4 linked regions of the Homo sapiens genome follow. The protein of the gene in region 3 purifies or fractionates together with the protein of the main gene of each other region. This does not show direct contact. Each region holds a gene or a part of one and is shown on either strand. Other genes may lie near its edges.

Region 1 (5,045 bases), on a different chromosome or scaffold from region 3:
TTTCACTGTTGCCCAGGCTGGAGTGCAGTGGTGCAATCATGGCTCACTGCAGCCTCCACCTCCCAGTCTCAGCTGATCCTCCCACCTCAGCCTCCCAACTAGCTGGGACTACAGGTGTGTACCACCACACCTGGCTAATTTTCGTATTTTTGGTAGAGATGAGGTTTCACCATGTTGCCCAGACTGGTCTTGAACTCCTGGGCTCACACCATTCATCTGCCTCAATTAATTCATCTTGAAGTGTTTACCAGGAATTTATATCATTTGATATTCAGAATTTCTATAGCCACAGTATAAAACTGATACTAATACCTTTCTTTTTTTTTTTTTTTTTTTTTTGAGATGGAGTCTCGCTTTGTCGCCCAGGCTGGAGTGCAATGGCGTGGTCTCAGCTCACTGCAACCTCTGCCTCCCAGGTTGAAGCGATTCTCCCGCCCCAGCCTCCTGAGTAGCTAGGATTACAGCTGCCTGCCACCACGCCCGGCTAATTTTTGTACTTTTAGTAGAGACGGGGTTTCGCTACATTGGCCAGACTGGTCTCAAACTCCTGACCTCGTGATCTGCCAGCCTGGGCCTCCCAAAGTGCTGGGATTACAGGTGTGAGCCAGCATGCCCGGCAACTAATACCACTTTTTTTTTTTTTTTTTGAGACGAAGTCTTGCTCTGTCACCCAGGCTAGAGTGCAGCGATCTCGGCTCACTGCAACCTTCTCCCAGGTTCAAGTGATTCTCCTGCCTCAGCCTCGCAAGTAACTGGGATTACAGGCATGCGCCATTGTGCCTGACTAATTTTTGTATTTTTTAGAGATGGGGTTTCACCATCTTGGTCAGGCTGGTCTTGAACTCCTGACCTTGTGATCCACCCGCCTCGGCCTCCCAAAGTGCTGGGATGACAGGTGTGAGCCACCGCGCCCGGCCTAACACCTATTTTTTTAAATATCTGGCTACAACCATTACATCCTTATTCTATAATTCATCTTTGGGGTCTTAACTGTACATTTTGTTTTCTAGTTTTAGAGCAACCCCTGCACTGTTTTCTGAGGAAAATCTTGGTCCTGCCCATAGGACCTTTAAATACATGTGCTGGTTGTCCATTCAGGTCAAAATGCTGACATGATCAGGATCTAACCTAAATCAGGCATGCTGAATATGTAGCCTCATGATTCTGGACTGAGAAAATAAACTCATTGCAACCTGATGCTTACTTAAATTCCTGGAGAATTACTAAAGGATTTGTTCACTCAAAAATTCAATAAACTGTTCTCTACGTGCCAGATGCTATTCTAGCTGCTGGGGATAAACAGTGAACAAAACACGTATAGTCCCCACAGTGTACGCATCCCTCTTTACCTCTGAATCAAGCCAAACCATCAGAGAGCCATATACCAAAACCACATTGCTTTGGCCCCGTGGAGACTGTTCACTGGCAATAACTCACTTGGATTGAGAAGTATAAGAAGCAATCTTTATTTATTTATTTAAGACGGAGTCTCACTCTGTTGCCCAGGCTGGAGTGCAGTGGTGCAATCTCAGCTCACCGCAACCTCCACCTCCCAGGTTCAAGAGATTCTCTGGCCTCAGCCTCCTGAGTACCTGTGATTACAGGCACGCGCCACCATGCCCGGCTAATTTTTTGTATTTTTAGTAGAGATGGGGTTTCGTCATGTTGGCCAGGCTGGTCTCAAACTCCTGACCTCAGGTGATCCACCCGCCTCAGCCTCCCAAAGTGCTGGGATTACAGATGTGAGCCACCACGCTTGGCCAAGAAGCAATCTTTAAAAACTCACGTTTGATTTTAGAGATACCATGAATCTGAAAACTGAACTTTATTTTCTTCTTCATTTTACTCCAGAAAACTCAGAGCCAAACACCAAAGCAACCATTAGCAATGATGCAGGACTTTCCGGTCCATGCACTAATTCTGCCACTGGCTTTATCTGCTTCTTTCATTTCTTCTTGGCCTTTATTTTTAATCTTCTCATTTTGAAAAGAAGTGGGAAATAAAAGATATTTGATGGGTGTTTTTTAACCTAAAATTTATTGTGTACCTTCTATGTGCCAGGCACTATCCTAGGCACCTTACAACCTTGGGGAAGTCGAACTATTATTTCTTTTTTTTTTTTTTTTTTTTTTGGAGACAGAGTTTCGCTCTTGTTGCCCAGGATGGAGTGCAATGGTGCAATCTCGGCTCACTGCAACCTCCACTTCCTGGGTCCAAGCGATTCTCCTGCCTCAGCCTCCCGAGTAGCTGGGATTACAGACATGCGCTACCACGCCCAGCCAATTTTTTTTTTTTGAGGCGGAGTCTCGCTGTCGCCCAGGCTGGAGTGCAGTGGTATGAGCTCAGCTCACTGCAAGCTTTGCCTCCCGGGTTCACGTCATTCTCCTGCCTCAGCCTCCTGAGTAGCTGGGACTACAGGCACCTGCCACCACGTCCAGCTGATTTTTTTTGTTTTTAGTAGAGACGTGGTTTCACTGTGTTAGCCAGGATGGTCTCGATCTCCTGACCTTGTGATCCGCCCGCCTTGGCCTCCCAAAGTGCTGGGATTACAGGATTGAGCCATCGTGCCCGGCCCAATTTTGTATTTTTAATAGAAATGGGGTTTCTCCATGTTGGTCAGGCTGGTCTCAAACTCCCGACCTCAGGTGATCTGCCCACCTTGACCTCCCAAAGTGCTGGGATTACGGGCGTGAGCCACCACGCCAGCAGAACTATTATTTCTACTATATAGATGAGGAAACTGAGGCAGAGACAGGCTTATTAACTTGCACATGATCTCGCAAACTACATTTGACAGAGCTGAATTCAAATTCAGCCCAGACCATTTCATGTAAGTGTATGTACAGGCCATGATGGGACCCAATAAGGTGGAGCAGAGGGAGGGTGGGGGGAAGCCCTCACTGAGCAAAGTCTTAAAGGAGGGGGCTTGTCAAGGAGCAAGGAGAAAGTACTCCAGAAAGAAAAAGAAATCACATACAAAAACCCAAAGCAGACCAGGTACTGTGGCTGACGCCTATAATTCAAACACTTTGAGAGTCTGAGGAAGGCAGATAGCTTAAGCCCAGGAGTTCACGACCAGCCTGAGCAACATGGTAAAACCCCACCTCTACAAAAAATGCAAAAATTAGCTGGGCATAGTGATGCACATCTGTAGTCCCAGCTACTTGGGAGGCTGAGGTGGGAAAATCACCTGGGCCCGAGAAGTCAAGGCTCCAGTGAGCCATTGTCACACCATTGCACTCCACCCTGAAGTGAGACCGTCTTTAAAAAACAACAACAACAACAACAAAAACAACAAAAACCCTAAAAACAAAAAACCAAAGCAAAGAGGGAACATAAGTTCTGGGAATGGCAAATGGAGCACGGAGTTACATTCAGCAATTAATTCATCTTGAAGGTTCACCAGAAAGTTAAATCATTTAAAAGTAGACATTTAATAGTTCCATCATTGAAAATCGATATGGCCAAAGTATTAACCGTGGCTGGGAAAGTATGAAGAAGTAAAATAAAGGCAATTTTTTTATATGATTAGGCTAAAAGTCTGAATGATGTTCAATAAGCAATGAGGAAGCACAGAGGGATCCTAAGCATGAGAATTACAAGATCGATTTGCACAGTACAGGGAGGGAATTACAGATTCAAGGTAGGGAAACCAGTCAGAAGGCTACTGAAGAGTCTGGCAGTGGGGTAATGAGAGTTAAATGAGAGCTATCCAAAAGAAATACAATGCAAAGAAATACAATGCAAGTTAAATGTATGCAGCTTTTAATTTTCTAGTAGCCATATTAGAAAAAATAAAAAGAAAGGCTGGGTATGGTGGCTCACGCCTGTAATCCTAGCACTTTGGGAGGCCAAGGCTGGCGCATCACTTGAGCACAGGAGACCAGCCTGAGCAACACAGTGAGACCCTGTCTCTTACAAAAAATAAAAAGTTAGCCTGGCATGGTGGTGCACATCTGTAGTCCCAGGTACTTGGGAGGCTGAGGTGGAAGGATTACCAGGTCGAGGCTGCAGTGAGCTGTGATTGCACCACTTCACTTCAGCCTTGACAACAGAGCCAAGCCCTGTCTCAGAAGAAAAATAAAAAGGAAAAAGAAGTAAGTGAAGGCCAGGCCCGGTGGCTCACACCTGTAATCCCAGCACTTTGGGAGGCCTAGTCAGACAGAGCACTTGAGGCCAGGAGTTCAAGACCAGCCTGGCCAACATGTTGAAACCCCGTCTCTACTAAAAATACAAAAATTAGCCGGGCATGGTGGCAGGCGCCTGTAATCCCAGCTAATCGGGAGGCTGAGGAAAGAGAATTGCTTGAACCCAGGAGGCGGAGATTGCAGTGAGTCAAGATCACATCACTGCACTCCAGTACGGGCAACAAAGTAAGACTTTGTCTCAGGAAAAAGTAAGTGAAAATAATTTTAGTAACAATTTTATTTACAGCCAGGCATGGCAGCTCACACTTGTAATCACAGCACTTTAGTAGGCCAAGGTGGTTGGATCATTTGAGCCCAGGAGTTTGAGACCAGCCTGGGCAACATGGCCAAACCTTGTCTCTACAAAAAAAAAAAAAAAAAAAAGAGCTGGGTGAGGTGTCAGGCGCTTGTAGTCCCAGCTACTCCAGAGGCTGAATTGGCTGGGTGGCTTGAGCCCAGGAGGTGGAGGTTGCAGTATGCTGAGATTGCACCACTGCACTACAGCCTGGATGACAGAGCCAGACCCTGTCTCAAAAAAAAAAAAAAGTATTTACTCCAATATACCTAAAATATTGTCTCACTATGTCATCAATATAAAAAGTTACTGAGAAATTTTATTTATTCAATTTTTGTACTAACTTGAAATCTAGCATGTATTTTATACTTATCTCATTTCAGACCCTAAATTCTCATTGGAAATATTTGATATATACTTAGATTTCATAAAATGACGGATGAAAAATACAGACTCACATACCCAAGTTGTTCAAAACATACTTGAACGTTTTCCAATAGCTGATCAAGTAGCAGTTTCTCAAGTTAATTTAATTACAATTAAATAAAATTAAAAATTTAGTT
Region 2 (5,045 bases), on a different chromosome or scaffold from region 3:
GCCCATCATCATCAGGCAGGGCAGGTGATAAAAGGTGTTAAAGGTTGGGTGCGGTGGCTCACGCCTGTAATCCCAGCACTTTGGGAGGCCGAGGCAGGCAGATCACCAGGCCAGGAGATCGAGACCATTCTGGCCAACATGATGAAACCCCATCTCTACTAAAACACACACACACAAAATTAGCCAGGCCTGGTGGCGCACGCCTGTAGTCCCAGCTACTCAAGAGGCTGAGGCACAAGAATCACCTGAACCTGGGAGATGGAGGTCGTGCTGAGCCAAGATTGCGCCACTGCACTCCAGCCTGGGAGACAGAGCGAGACTCCATCTCAAAAAAAAAAAAAGGTATTAACACCTCCCTGGGTGAAGTCGCCCCCCAGTCTTGCCCTTAAATCATGCCTTGTGGCTTTGGGCGCATCCTTCTTGTCTGATCCCCTCCAAAGATCAAGAGAGCAACCCAACTCAGGAAGTGCAGGCACTTTTTACAAATAATCCTTCCTTTGGAAGACTGCTGGGAAGTGGAAAGACTGATTGTTGCTTGACCTAGGCTTGGGATGAAAATTTAAAGCTTGCTGTCTGTCTGTCTATCTATCTATCTATCTATCTATCTATCTATCTATCTATCTATCTATTTAAAGGGTCTCACTCTGTTGTCAAGGCTGGAGTACAGTGGTGTGATCATAGCTTACTGCAGCCTGAAGCTCCTGGGCTCAAGCAACCCTCGTGCCTCAGCCTCTTGAGTAGCTGGGACTACAGATGCATGCCACCATGCCTAATTTTTTTTTTTTTAATTTTTTGTAGAGACAGGTGCTCGTTATGTTGGCCAGGCTGGTCTTGAACTCCTGGGCTCAAGTGATCCTCTCGCTTCGGCCTCCCAAAGTGCTGAGATTACAGGTGTGAGCCATCGCACCTATTATATTATCAATATTACATGTTATGCGTTACATATTATAATATTAATATAATATATAATATTATATTATATAATATATAATATATATAATATTATATATAATATATATAATATAATATAATAATAATATAATATATAATATATATAATATAATATAATATATTATAATATAATATATAATATATATAATATATATAATTAATATATAATATATAATATATATAATATAATATAATATATAATTATAATATATAATTAATATAATATATTAATTATTACATTATACTGTTATATTACTACTGTATTATTAACATAATAATATAGAACTCTTTCATTAGATTTTATAAGTGAAAAAAAGGTGAAATTTCTGTGTAAAAGTGATGGATTGAACACCTCTCTAGTTTCACTCTCTCTTGAACCTCAATTACATCTTTTTTTTAAAATGGCTTTTTTTTTTTTTTAAATCAGAGGCAATATGATAGGGACAGAACTTTGGAAACTGGAAAGCAGCTGGACATGCTAATCCCACCCCACCCCTAAAAACCCATGAATCCTAAGCCAGCAATTGAGGGATGCTGAGAACCGGTAGCAAAGTCCTCAAAAGGAGCTGGCAACACCAGGCCAGTTTTGCAGAAGGCAAAATAAAGACGAACTGAGGGCTGTTTCAGCAGCAGCTAGACCTCCAAATCTCGTTTCCCCTCTCCCCTTACTCTTCCCCCACCCCCAGTGACTGGGGGTTTATTCTGTAGACAGGGTGAAACAGAAAGGGGCCGCTGGCTTTGGGGACATCTGGCCCATCTGAAGATGAGGGAGGGGGATTCTGAACCCCAAGTGGGTACTGAGTGCGTCTTGCTGGCTGAATGCCTGACAGCTCCCTGCCTCTGCCCCTGCAGCTCCCAGAAGCTGGCAGCCTGGCCCTGGCAGCCTGGCCTTCACCCCCCGCCAGGAGGCCAGAGGAGTTTTCTCAGGGGGATTTGACCAGCCCCAGAGGAAGAACGAAAGATGGTGACATCTGGCACTCCCCAACGTATAAAGCAAGATGCAAAACAGCATGTACAGGCCGGGTGTGGTGGCCCCGACCTGTAATCCCAGCACTTCAGGAGGCCAAGGTGAGTGGATCACTTGAGGTCAGGAGTTTGAGACCAGCTTGGCCAACATGGTGAAACCTCGTCTCTACTAAAAATACAAAAATTAGCCAGGCATGGTGGTGCATGCCTATAGTCCCAGTTACTCAGGAGGCTGAGGCAGGAGAATCACTTGAGCCCAGGAGGTGGAGGTTATAGTGAGCCAACAGCGTGCCACTGCACTCCAGCCTGGGTGACAGGAGTGAAACCCTGTCTCAAAGAACAAACAAACAAACAAACAAAAACAGCGTGTACACTAGGCTGCCCTGCTTGCTGGGGGTGGGGGGTGGCGGGGCAGAAAGAGGAAATAAAGTTAAAAATTAAAGTTAAACATACAGACATGCAAATTGACCTGTATATGTGCAGAGCTGCGCTGTCCAATCCAGAAGCCACTAGCTACATTAGGTTGTTTACATTTCGATAAATTAAATGACAAATTCAGTTCCTCAGTCATACTGGCCTCATTAAGCATTCTGTAGCCATGTGTGGCCAGTGGCCTCTGGATTGGACAGTACAGATAAGAACCATTTTCTTTCTTTTTATTTTTTTAGACAAGAGTGTCACTCTGTTACCTAGGCCAGAGTACAGTGGCATAATCTCAGCTCACTGCAACCTCTGCCTCCTGGGTTCAAGCGATTCTTGTGCCTCAGCCTCCCGAGTAGCTGAGATTACAGGCACCTGCCACCATGCCTGGCTAATTTTGAATTTTTAGTAGAGATCAGGTTTTGCCATGTTGGCCATGCTGGTCTCGAACTCCTGCCATCAGGTGATCCATCTGCCTCAGAGTCCCAAAGTGCTGGGATTACAGGTGTGAGTAACCATGCCTAGCCTGGATAAGGAACATTTCTATCATTGTAGAAAGTTCCACCGGGCAGTGCTGGTCCATAGGATAGAAAGCGAGATATGATTTATAAGCTGCTAATAACTCTGCAGGGGAGGGGACCTGGGGGACAGGATGTGATAAGACTTTTCACCACATACCTTTTTTAGAACCATGTGAATGTATGACATATTCAAAAAGTAAATATTTAAATGTTGCTTCACTAATCTGTCTCTCCTGTCCTAGAACTTCTTCCTCCTTTCTTTCAAGAGCATTAAGGGGCTGGGCACGGTGGCTCATGCCTGTAATCCCAGCACTTTGGGAGGCCAAGGCGGGGGGATCACCTGAGGTCAGGAGTTCAAGACCAGCCTGACCAACATGGAGAAACCCCGTCTCTTCTAAAAACACAAAAATTAGCATGGTGGCGCATGCCTGTAATCCCAGCTACTCAGGAGGCTGAGGCAGGAGAATCGTTTGAACCCGGGAGGCGGAGGTTGCGGTGAGCCAAGATTCCGCCATTGCACTCCAGCCTGGGTGACAAGAGCGAAACTCCGTCTCAAAAAAAAAAAAAAAAAAAGTATGAAAGCAGGTCAAAACACAGACGCAGGAGCCAACCGTGGTTTAGCCGAGATTCCAAGACAGCCTTCAAAATGAAAAGACAACTCCCCTTCCAGGGAAGGCTCTGATCTATGAATGAGCTGTTCTGCACAGGGACAATCCTGCAGAGGGTGGGTTCAGGGAAGAACAGCTGAGGCTTATTTATGTCATGGTGGGTAGTGGAGGAGAGTTACTAGATCAGCAAAGACCAGTGGAGTAGGAAGTGCATGTGTGTTTGTCCCCATGGTGAAGGTCATGGGTCTGGATCCAGGCTGTGTGGGTCCGAAGCCCAGCTCTGTCACTAAATAGCTGTGTGACTTTGAGCCAGTTACTTGACTTCTCTGTGCTTCAGTTTCCTTGTCTGTAAAATGGGGATGAGAATGGTGGACTATTTCCTCATAGGGCTCAGGTGAGATGAAAATGAGTTATAGTATGTAAAGCACTTAGGGTAGTGCCTGGCATATAGTAAGTGCTTGATAAACATTAGCTAAAATTATTATTATGTCGGGACAGAGGCCTGGGCTTGGGCTGGTGGCTTGAATCAGGGCTTCTTACTGGGCATGAGATGAAGACAGGAAGAGTGTGCCAGAGCTGAATCTCGACTTTACCCTGCCTTGGGACCTCTTCCACACACAAGGGAGACAAAGGCACAGCCAGGAGGAGAAACCAGTTCTTCCCCTACTTTCTCATCTTTCTTTCCTCTTTAAACTTCAAGTTCACCCCAAACTTGAAGTTGGATTAAAGCCGCAGAGATTCCTTATGGAGCAGCAGCCATCCTCACTGTTCCTCCAACACAAGCTTGCTCGTGCCTCTGGGCCTTTGCACTGGCTGTTCCTTCTGCCTAGAATTCTCTTCCCTCTGATGACAGAATGAGGGTCCCTTGCCTCTGTTCCATCTCCTCTGCTTCACCATCATTTGCTAAAGAGACCTTCCCTGACCAATTCAAACAGCACCCTTAGAACTGTCCCGCTCCAGGCCCCGGCCTTTTTCTCCTTGATGATAACTTATCGCTCCATCACATTACAGGACATAGCACTCTTCCTTCTCCTAATTCTCCATCTGCATGGTGGGTTCAGGTGTGTTCTCCCCTTGAGAACATTCATCAAACTAAGTATTTATCATTTGTGCATTTTCTGTTTGTGCAGTTCAATTAAAAAAAAAAAAATTTAAGTAGGCCTGGCGTGGTGGCTCATGCCTGTAATCCCAGCACTTTGGGAGGCCGAAGCAGGACTGCTTCAGTCTGGGAGTTCAAGACTAGCCTGGGCAACATAGGGAGACCCCCCCCCGCCAAACATCTCTACAAAAACTAAAAAATTAGCTGGGTGTGGTGGTGCACGCCTGTTGTCCCAGCTGCTCGGGAGAATGAGGTGGGAGGATTGCTTGAGCCTGGGACATCGAGGGTGCAGTGAGCCATGACTGCACCACTGCACTCAGCCTGGGTGACAGTGAGATCCTGTCTCAAAAAAAAAAAAGATTAAAAAAAAAAAACTTACATAGCATTTGTCATCACTGTGGCTCCCCTTCTTGCTAGCACCCAGCCAGCCCCTAGTGATGTTACATCATATTTGGACATGTTTGTCAGTTGTTGGTTTTT
Region 3 (5,045 bases):
AGCAGCGACCTATAAAAAAGAATAGTCTCTATTCAACAGATTTTATAGTGTTTAATGACAATGATGGTTCAGATGATGAGAATGATGACAAAGATAAATCCTATGAGCCAGAAGTGATTCCAGTCCAGAAACCAGTACCTGTTAATGAATTTAATTGCCCTGTAACTTTTTGTAAAAAGGGCTTTAAGTACTTTAAAAATTTAATTGCTCATGTGAAGGGGCATAAAGATAATGAAGACGCCAAGCGCTTTCTTGAAATGCAGAGCAAAAAAGTTATTTGCCAGTACTGTAGGCGGCATTTTGTGAGTGTTACTCATCTCAATGATCACTTACAGATGCACTGTGGCAGTAAACCATATATCTGTATACAGATGAAATGTAAAGCTGGTTTTAATAGTTACGCCGAGCTTTTAACCCACCGAAAGGAGCATCAAGTCTTTAGAGCAAAATGTATGTTTCCTAAATGTGGAAGAATTTTTTCGGAAGCTTATTTACTATATGATCATGAAGCACAACATTATAATACGTACACTTGTAAGTTCACAGGTTGTGGTAAAGTTTATCGTTCTCAGGGTGAGCTGGAAAAGCATCTGGATGATCACAGTACTCCTCCTGAAAAAGTGCTGCCTCCTGAAGCCCAACTTAATTCATCTGGAGATTCCATTCAGCCTTCTGAAGTGAATCAGAACACAGCAGAGAATATTGAGAAAGAAAGATCTATGCTTCCTTCAGAAAATAACATTGAAAACAGCTTACTAGCAGATAGAAGTGATGCTTGGGATAAAAGCAAAGCAGAATCAGCTGTGACCAAACAAGACCAGATTTCTGCCTCTGAGCTCAGGCAAGCTAATGGACCATTGTCAAATGGTTTGGAAAACCCTGCTACTACTCCTCTACTTCAATCCAGTGAAGTAGCTGTGTCCATTAAGGTGTCTCTCAATCAGGGGATTGAGGATAACTTTGGAAAGCAAGAAAACTCAACTGTGGAAGGCAGTGGTGAAGCACTGGTCACAGACTTACATACGCCAGTTGAAGATACTTGTAATGATTTGTGTCATCCAGGTTTCCAGGAGAGAAAAGAACAAGATTGCTTTAATGATGCCCATGTTACTCAGAATTCTTTAGTAAATTCAGAAACTCTCAAAATAGGTGACCTTACCCCACAAAACTTAGAAAGACAAGTGAACAACTTGATGACCTTTTCTGTGCAAAATCAGGCAGCATTTCAAAACAATTTACCAACTTCCAAATTTGAATGTGGAGATAATGTTAAAACATCATCCAATCTTTATAATTTACCTCTTAAGACATTAGAAAGTATTGCATTTGTTCCACCGCAGTCCGACCTAAGTAATTCATTAGGAACTCCATCAGTGCCTCCAAAAGCTCCAGTTCAGAAATTCAGCTGCCAGGTCGAGGGATGTACTCGAACCTATAATTCTTCACAGAGTATTGGGAAACACATGAAGACAGCACACCCTGACCAATATGCTGCATTTAAAATGCAGCGCAAAAGTAAAAAAGGTCAGAAAGCTAACAACTTAAATACACCAAATAATGGAAAGTTTGTTTATTTTTTGCCATCACCGGTGAACAGCTCAAATCCATTTTTTACATCACAGACCAAAGCCAATGGGAATCCTGCTTGTTCGGCCCAGTTGCAGCATGTCTCGCCACCCATTTTTCCAGCTCATTTAGCAAGTGTGTCAACTCCATTGTTGTCCTCAATGGAAAGTGTCATAAATCCAAATATAACTTCTCAGGATAAAAATGAACAAGGTGGTATGTTATGTTCCCAAATGGAAAATTTACCTAGTACTGCCTTGCCAGCACAAATGGAAGATCTAACCAAAACAGTTCTGCCTTTGAATATTGACAGTGGCTCAGATCCTTTCCTTCCTTTACCTGCAGAAAGTAGTTCAATGTCTCTCTTCCCTTCACCAGCAGATAGTGGGACTAATTCTGTTTTTTCCCAACTGGAAAATAATACAAATCATTATTCCTCACAGATTGAAGGAAACACTAATTCCTCCTTTCTAAAGGGGGGTAATGGTGAAAATGCAGTTTTTCCTTCACAAGTGAATGTTGCAAATAACTTCAGTAGCACCAATGCCCAACAGTCTGCACCTGAAAAAGTTAAAAAAGACCGTGGGCGGGGCCCAAATGGGAAGGAAAGAAAACCTAAGCACAACAAAAGGGCTAAATGGCCTGCAATTATCAGAGATGGGAAATTTATCTGTAGCAGGTGTTACAGGGCTTTTACTAATCCCAGATCACTGGGTGGGCACTTATCCAAGCGATCTTACTGTAAACCACTGGATGGAGCCGAAATTGCTCAAGAACTTCTACAGAGTAATGGACAGCCTTCTCTTCTTGCCAGCATGATTCTCTCCACAAATGCAGTAAATTTGCAGCAGCCACAACAATCTACCTTCAATCCAGAAGCATGTTTTAAAGATCCATCATTTCTACAGCTTCTTGCTGAAAATCGCTCGCCAGCATTTTTACCAAATACATTTCCTCGATCTGGTGTGACTAACTTTAATACCAGTGTCAGTCAAGAAGGTAGTGAAATTATTAAACAGGCTTTGGAAACTGCTGGCATTCCCAGTACATTTGAGGGTGCCGAAATGCTTTCTCATGTTTCAACAGGTTGTGTCTCTGATGCATCACAAGTAAATGCAACGGTGATGCCAAATCCAACTGTACCACCCCTGTTGCACACTGTATGCCATCCAAACACCTTGCTGACCAACCAGAATAGGACGTCAAACTCCAAAACTTCCTCCATTGAGGAATGTAGCAGCTTGCCTGTTTTTCCAACGAATGACTTACTACTGAAGACTGTTGAAAATGGTTTGTGCTCTAGTTCATTTCCTAATTCTGGTGGGCCATCACAAAATTTTACCAGTAACAGTTCTCGTGTTTCTGTTATAAGTGGTCCTCAGAACACAAGATCCAGTCATTTAAATAAAAAGGGAAACAGTGCTTCTAAGAGAAGAAAGAAAGTTGCTCCTCCACTAATTGCACCTAACGCTTCCCAAAACTTGGTAACAAGTGACTTAACAACAATGGGACTCATAGCAAAGAGTGTTGAAATCCCAACTACTAACCTTCATTCAAATGTAATTCCAACTTGTGAACCTCAGAGTTTGGTGGAAAATCTAACACAGAAATTAAATAATGTTAACAATCAGTTATTTATGACTGATGTAAAAGAGAATTTCAAAACCAGTCTTGAGTCCCATACAGTGTTAGCCCCTTTAACATTAAAAACTGAAAATGGTGATTCCCAAATGATGGCTTTGAATTCATGCACAACTTCAATAAATTCTGATTTGCAGATTTCTGAAGACAATGTTATACAAAACTTTGAAAAGACTCTTGAAATTATTAAAACTGCTATGAATTCTCAAATACTTGAGGTAAAAAGTGGATCTCAGGGTGCTGGTGAAACTTCACAAAATGCTCAAATAAATTATAACATTCAGCTTCCTTCAGTAAACACTGTGCAAAATAACAAATTACCCGATTCTTCTCCGTTTTCCTCCTTTATAAGTGTCATGCCAACAAAAAGTAACATTCCTCAGTCTGAAGTATCACATAAGGAGGATCAAATACAGGAAATTTTAGAAGGCTTACAGAAATTAAAATTAGAAAATGACCTATCCACTCCAGCATCCCAATGTGTACTGATAAATACATCAGTGACACTGACTCCCACGCCTGTTAAATCAACTGCAGATATCACAGTTATTCAGCCAGTTTCTGAAATGATAAACATTCAATTTAATGACAAAGTTAATAAACCCTTTGTGTGTCAAAACCAAGGCTGTAACTACAGTGCTATGACAAAGGATGCACTATTTAAGCACTATGGTAAAATTCATCAATACACTCCAGAAATGATTCTTGAAATTAAGAAGAATCAATTGAAATTTGCTCCCTTTAAATGTGTAGTACCTACATGTACAAAAACATTTACAAGAAATTCTAACCTCCGGGCACACTGTCAGTTGGTGCATCATTTTACAACTGAAGAAATGGTAAAGTTAAAAATTAAAAGGCCTTATGGAAGAAAATCTCAGAGTGAAAATGTGCCGGCCTCACGAAGTACACAAGTGAAAAAACAGCTAGCTATGACAGAGGAAAATAAAAAGGAATCTCAGCCTGCTTTAGAATTGAGAGCAGAGACCCAAAATACCCACAGTAATGTAGCAGTGATCCCAGAAAAACAACTTGTAGAAAAAAAAAGTCCTGACAAAACAGAAAGTTCTTTACAAGTGATTACAGTTACTTCAGAACAATGTAATACAAATGCACTCACAAACACACAAACCAAAGGACGGAAGATTAGGAGGCATAAAAAAGAAAAGGAGGAGAAAAAACGAAAGAAGCCAGTTTCCCAATCCCTTGAGTTTCCAACAAGATACAGTCCTTACAGACCTTATCGATGTGTTCACCAGGGATGCTTTGCTGCCTTTACGATACAGCAAAACTTGATTCTCCATTACCAGGCTGTACACAAATCAGATCTACCTGCATTTTCAGCAGAGGTCGAAGAGGAAAGTGAAGCTGGTAAAGAAAGTGAAGAAACTGAAACTAAACAAACTTTGAAAGAATTTCGATGTCAGGTAAGTGACTGTTCTCGAATTTTCCAAGCAATTACTGGCCTAATACAACACTACATGAAACTTCATGAAATGACTCCTGAAGAAATTGAAAGTATGACTGCTTCAGTGGATGTTGGGAAGTTTCCATGTGACCAGTTAGAGTGTAAATCTTCATTTACTACATATTTGAACTATGTTGTTCATCTAGAGGCAGACCACGGGATTGGACTAAGGGCAAGTAAAACAGAAGAAGATGGTGTATACAAATGTGATTGTGAAGGCTGTGACCGTATATATGCAACCCGGTCGAATCTCCTCCGACACATTTTTAATAAGCATAATGACAAACATAAGGCTCATTTGATTCGTCCAAGAAGATTAACACCAGGCCAGGAAAATATGTCAAGCAAGGCAAACCAAGAAAAATCAAAG
Region 4 (5,045 bases), on a different chromosome or scaffold from region 3:
CAAAACAAAAAAAAATGCTCAACATCATTAGCCATTTGGAGAAATGCAAATTAAAACCACAAAGAGATACTGTGCCCACCAGGATATCTATAAAGAAAAAAAAAAGGAAACGTGTTGGCAAGGACGTGGAGAAATTGGAACTCTCATACATTCCTAATAGTAATGTATACCAGTGCAGCCAGTCTTCATGTGTGCCTGAAAACAGTCTGGCTGTCCCACAAAAGATTAAAAATATAGGTAACATATGAACCAGCAATTCCACTCAAGAGAAAAGCATACATCCACCCAAAAACTTATATAAGGATGTTCATGACAACACTATTCAGTCACCAAAATGTGTAAACAAACCAAATGCCCCTGCATTGGGGCATTTGATAAATAAACTGATGACTGGATAAATAAAATATGACATATCCATACAATAGATTATTTGGCCATAAAAGAAATGAAATACATACATGCTACAATATGGACAAACTTTGGAAATATGCTAAGTAAAAGAAGCCAGACACAAGGACCACATATTGTATGATTCTATTTATGTGAAGTGTCCAGAACAGGCAAATCCATAGAAAGCACAACAGTGGGCCGAGTGCAGTGGCTCACACCTGTAATCCCAGCACTTTGGGAGGCCAAGGTGGGTGGATCACCTGAGGTCAGGAGTTCAAGACCAGCCTGGCCAATATGGTGAAGCCCCATCTCTACTAAAAATACAAAAAATTAGCTGGGCACCTGTAATCTCGGCTACTCGGGAGGCTGAGGCAAGAGAATTGCTTGACCCTGGGAGACAGAGGTTGCAGTGAGCCGAGGTCGCGCCACTGCACTCCACCCTGACCAGTAAGAGCAAAACTCCGTCCCCAGAAAAAAAAAGCACAACAGTGGCTGCCAGGGCTGGGAGAACTGGGAAGTGATGGAAGCAGGGCTTCTTCGTTCTGAACTCAACTGTGGTGATGTATACGCAATGTGAATGAGCCCACAGCCATTCACTGTACACTTCAAACTGGTGAATTGTATGGTACATAAATTATATCTCAAGCTGTTTAAAACAATATCTAAAAAGGCACAAAATTAAAATAAACCCTGTAGTACTTGACCAGACTAGGGGTTACTGAAGTGAACTCATTGTTTTCAACACACAGATAGAAGAATAGAGATAGTTTGAGAGTGTGTGTCCACATACACACATACATTCCATAGCTCTGCCCACTGAGAGTGCCTGGATGCAGTTATACACCCCAGTAGCAGTGGGCACAACTAGGGCTCAAACCTGAATTCCTAAATACCGCTTTCCTTTAAAAAGAACCCTAGGAAAAATGGCTGGAGCATGGTAAAGACAAGATGAGCCTAGAACATCCTGTGCCGGAATATAAAGCAGTTGCTCAATGAGGCATGTCAACAGAACACAGAAGTAACCAGCTTGAAAGGGCTCCCATAGGCCAGATACGAGACAATGTGGGCATATATCAAGTAACAGATACAACCTGTGGCAAAGTGAATTTTCCAAACACACAATACCTTCCAACCCACATGCTCTTACAATACGGCCCTAACACTCCTCCCAAAAGTGGCAGCATCTAATGCCCCCTCCTGACCTTTGGGCAGAACTTTGTGGCTGCCTTGACCAATCAAGTATGGAGGAAATAATGCCATGAGAATTCCAAGACTAGATCATAAAAATGCCACATACCTCTCTCAGGATGATCATGCCCAGAATCTAGATACCACATGTGTAGAAAGTGCCAACTAGCCCACAGAGACACCAGGTAGAGGTGTTCCACATCAACTACCAGCATGGGAGTGAAGATGCCTCTTGAGGATTCCAGCCCTAGCTGTCAAGTCACCCCCTGCCTTTGAGTCTTCCCAGATGAGGCCCAGACACTGTGGACCAGAAACAAACCATCTCCCTTCCCTGTCTGAATAGAACTGACCCAGAGAACTGATGCGCTTCTTAAATAAAATGTCTTACTCCAGTAAGTTTGGGGTGGTTTGGTATACAGTGATAATCTATATAGTTATATAGACTATAACCCGCTCGAATGTAGTGATTTCCTGATTTTGATGGTTTTGTTATGGATATGTAGGAGAATGTTCTTGTTTGTAGTATTTAGGGTAATGTGGCAACTTTTTTGGCAACTTATTCTCAAGTGATTCAGGGAAAAAAGTTATTTGTACTATACTTGTAACTTTCCTAAAAATCTGCCAACTATTCCAAAATTTAAATGTGTAGGCTATAAAAGCTAAAATATATATCAGTCAAACTCAAGTGGCAAATATTTGGTTATTCAACTTTAATAATAAAGAAATGCCATTTAAAATGTCAAATTTTTATTATCAAAACAGTAACTATTAAGATTACTAACATCTGGTGGTAGTAAAAGTAGAAAAATTTTAATTTTTATGCTTTTACAGGGTAATTTGGCAATACCTCTCAAGATCTTTTTTTTCTTTTTTTTTTTTTGAGACAGGGTCTTGCTCCTTCACCCAGGCTGGAGTATAGTGGCTTGATTACAGCTCACTGCAGCCTCAACCTCCCAACCTCAAGCAATCCTCCTGCCTCAACCTCATGAGTAGCTTGGACTACCGATGTATGCCACCACACCTGGCTAACTTTTTTTTATTTTTTGGTAGAGACAGGGTCTCCCTATGTTACCCAGGCTGGTCTTGAACTCCTGAGCTCAAGCAATCCTCCCCGTCAGCCTCTCAAAGTACGGGGATTACAGGCATGAACCACCATGCCCAGCTCTCTCATGATTTTTAAGGACAATTTCTGAGTAAGCAATTCTACTTCTACATTCCTCTCTTGTATCCACCACCCAAGGACAGGCTTAGTGATCCCTCCTAGGACTTAGTACCATAACCACATACCACTCCACTGCACTCGACTCACCATGTTGCAATTATCTACTTATATATCCATTTCTCCTATTGGGCTGAACTACTCCAGGGCAGAAATCATGTTATATTTGCTTGAGAGGGTCCCATCACAGAGCACAGTACGTAGCAAATGTTCATTAAATGAACAAAAGATATAAAATAAAACAGGATAAGAACCGTAAGATATGCAGAAAGTGCTAGGAGGTTCTAAAGAGGACATGGCTATGGAAAGCTGGTGCCCAAGACATACAAGGTGAATAAATTAGCATCAAAAAATTATTGAGGTAAAGAAGGAAAAGTCTGAATTTATTTGGCAAAAGTAAAACCAAAAAGGTGGACTGGAATCAAACTGGGAGAGGAGTGGGAGGCAGAAAGGGTTAACATATAATAGGGAGAAATTTTTGGTGGGTAACAAGCAAACACCAAGTTTTTGAGAAGCTGTTTTGAAGCGGATAAATTTCTTTTCAAAGTTATCTATGTGAAAAATGTATCCTGGTCTCAGCAAAAGGAGAGATTTAAGGATCATTAGCATTGTAGAACTGGGAGGATAAAAATTTAAAAATTTTCTTTATAAAATTTTAAGTTTAAAAATTTTCTTTAATAAAATGCACTGATTTGGGTTCTAGCCTTCAAAAGCTTACACTCTCACACAAGAGCTGCCATAACCTCATTATGCATTTCTAAACACTAAGCTCAAGGTCACTTTCTGGCCCAGTCCAGCTTCTTTGGTCAGAGCAAAACTCAACGAAAATTTTGTTAGCTGCTTTCCAGGGACTCTATCAGACTTGATTTCATTTCCTCCTTAAAGTTCCACTATCCTCTCTATCCTCTGGGGTTCTTCTCCAAAAGCTGGCTGACAAACAGTGTTGTCTAAAGTAGGGACCATCATCCATATGTATCTGAAACAGGGAAGCTAAATTTACTGCTTCCAAGAAAATCTCAACTCACACAGCCAGAGCTGATCTTATCACAGAGTTTTGAGAAGCCTGGGATACAAAGACTGGTGGACTTTTAAAAGCAGAGTGATTGGGGATTGGCTGATTCATGTAAGCATGGTTGTACATACATGAACCTCAGAAAGGGGTTACTAAAATGAGGCTCTCAGAGATTGGGCAGGGGTCTGTGGTTACTTGTTCAAGGCTTGGGACTAGGGCCAAGGAGTTGTCACTTTTTTATTTTTTTCCCTTGAATTTGAAAAATAGGAACTTTTTATTCTCAAATGAAAGTGCTTCCATTCCTTCATCGTTATTGTGGCCCTTCTAAACAAAACAAAACACAAGCACACAAATACCTTTTCATTTAAAAAAAGGAGGGGGAAAAGTTCCCCCCTCCTTTTTTTTTTTGTTTAGCAGTTTCCTAACTGCTTTAGGGAAACCAACAAAGGATAAAAAATAAAATGCAAGTAAATTACAGGTTTCATAACTGTTGCCAACCACTTTGGGGATGGGAAGCTGACTTTTACCCATAATTTATCCATTCTAAGCTACCACAATTTATTCATTCTTAGATCCATTCTTATAGCATAATTTATCAATCCTAAGATAAAATATTCCATGTAAAATGCCCAGTGGATGAATTAACTATGAAATAGTTCAATGTTTTCATATTTATAGATCCTCTATAGATACTGTTCTCCATAGAATCTTAGAGCTCAGTAAAATCTGTATTTTCACCATTAGAAAACAGCAGGCTAACCGGGGCGGCCAACTATTTCCACATCATGCACCAACCTATCAATTTCAATTCAAAATAAATCTCAATTCCTAATGTTTAGGGTAGGCATGGAACTACCATAAAATTCCACTGATATGCACAAGAAAATATTATTTCCCAAAAGGGTACATAAAGGACTTCTCTGGGGATTTTTTAGTATAATGATCTCGTAAGGATATTCTATTATAGAAAAAAAAATACATTCTAAAAGAAAATGTTGGCCGGGTGCAACGGCTCACACCTGTAATCCCAGCACTTTGGAAGGCTAAGGCGGGCAGATCACCTGAGGTCAGGAGTTGGAGACCAGCCTGACCAATATGGTGAAACCCTGTCTCTACTAAAAATTACCAAAAAATTGGCTGGGTCCTACTCGGGACGCTGAGGCAGGAGAATCGCTTGAACCCGGGAGACAGAGGTTGCAGTGAGCCGAGATCACACCACTGCACTCCAGCCTGGGC

Evidence for each region. Proteins that work in one complex are often made in the same cells at the same time.
Region 1: the proteins of ZNF292 (region 3) and SCAI purify together in Homo sapiens (affinity purification with mass spectrometry, with the first as the bait; one large-scale study listed by BioGRID). This does not show direct contact.
Region 2: the proteins of ZNF292 (region 3) and ZSWIM9 purify together in Homo sapiens (affinity purification with mass spectrometry, with the first as the bait; one large-scale study listed by BioGRID). This does not show direct contact.
Region 4: the proteins of ZNF292 (region 3) and ADNP2 purify together in Homo sapiens (affinity purification with mass spectrometry, with the first as the bait; one large-scale study listed by BioGRID). This does not show direct contact.

Annotation. Positions count from the first base shown.
Region 1 is NC_000009.12:125,136,140-125,141,184, forward strand, and holds part of SCAI (protein SCAI), read right to left. Parts: intron 1-5,045. UniProt on the Homo sapiens protein: Tumor suppressor which functions to suppress MRTFA-induced SRF transcriptional activity. May function in the RHOA-DIAPH1 signal transduction pathway and regulate cell migration through transcriptional regulation of ITGB1.
Region 2 is NC_000019.10:48,183,524-48,188,568, reverse strand, and holds part of ZSWIM9 (uncharacterized protein ZSWIM9), read right to left. Parts: intron 1-5,045.
Region 3 is NC_000006.12:87,255,521-87,260,565, forward strand, and holds part of ZNF292 (zinc finger protein 292), read left to right. Parts: coding exon 1-5,045. UniProt on the Homo sapiens protein: May be involved in transcriptional regulation.
Region 4 is NC_000018.10:80,111,606-80,116,650, reverse strand, and holds part of ADNP2 (activity-dependent neuroprotector homeobox protein 2), read right to left. Parts: intron 1-5,045. UniProt on the Homo sapiens protein: May be involved in transcriptional regulation. May play a role in neuronal function; perhaps involved in protection of brain tissues from oxidative stress. May be involved in erythroid differentiation.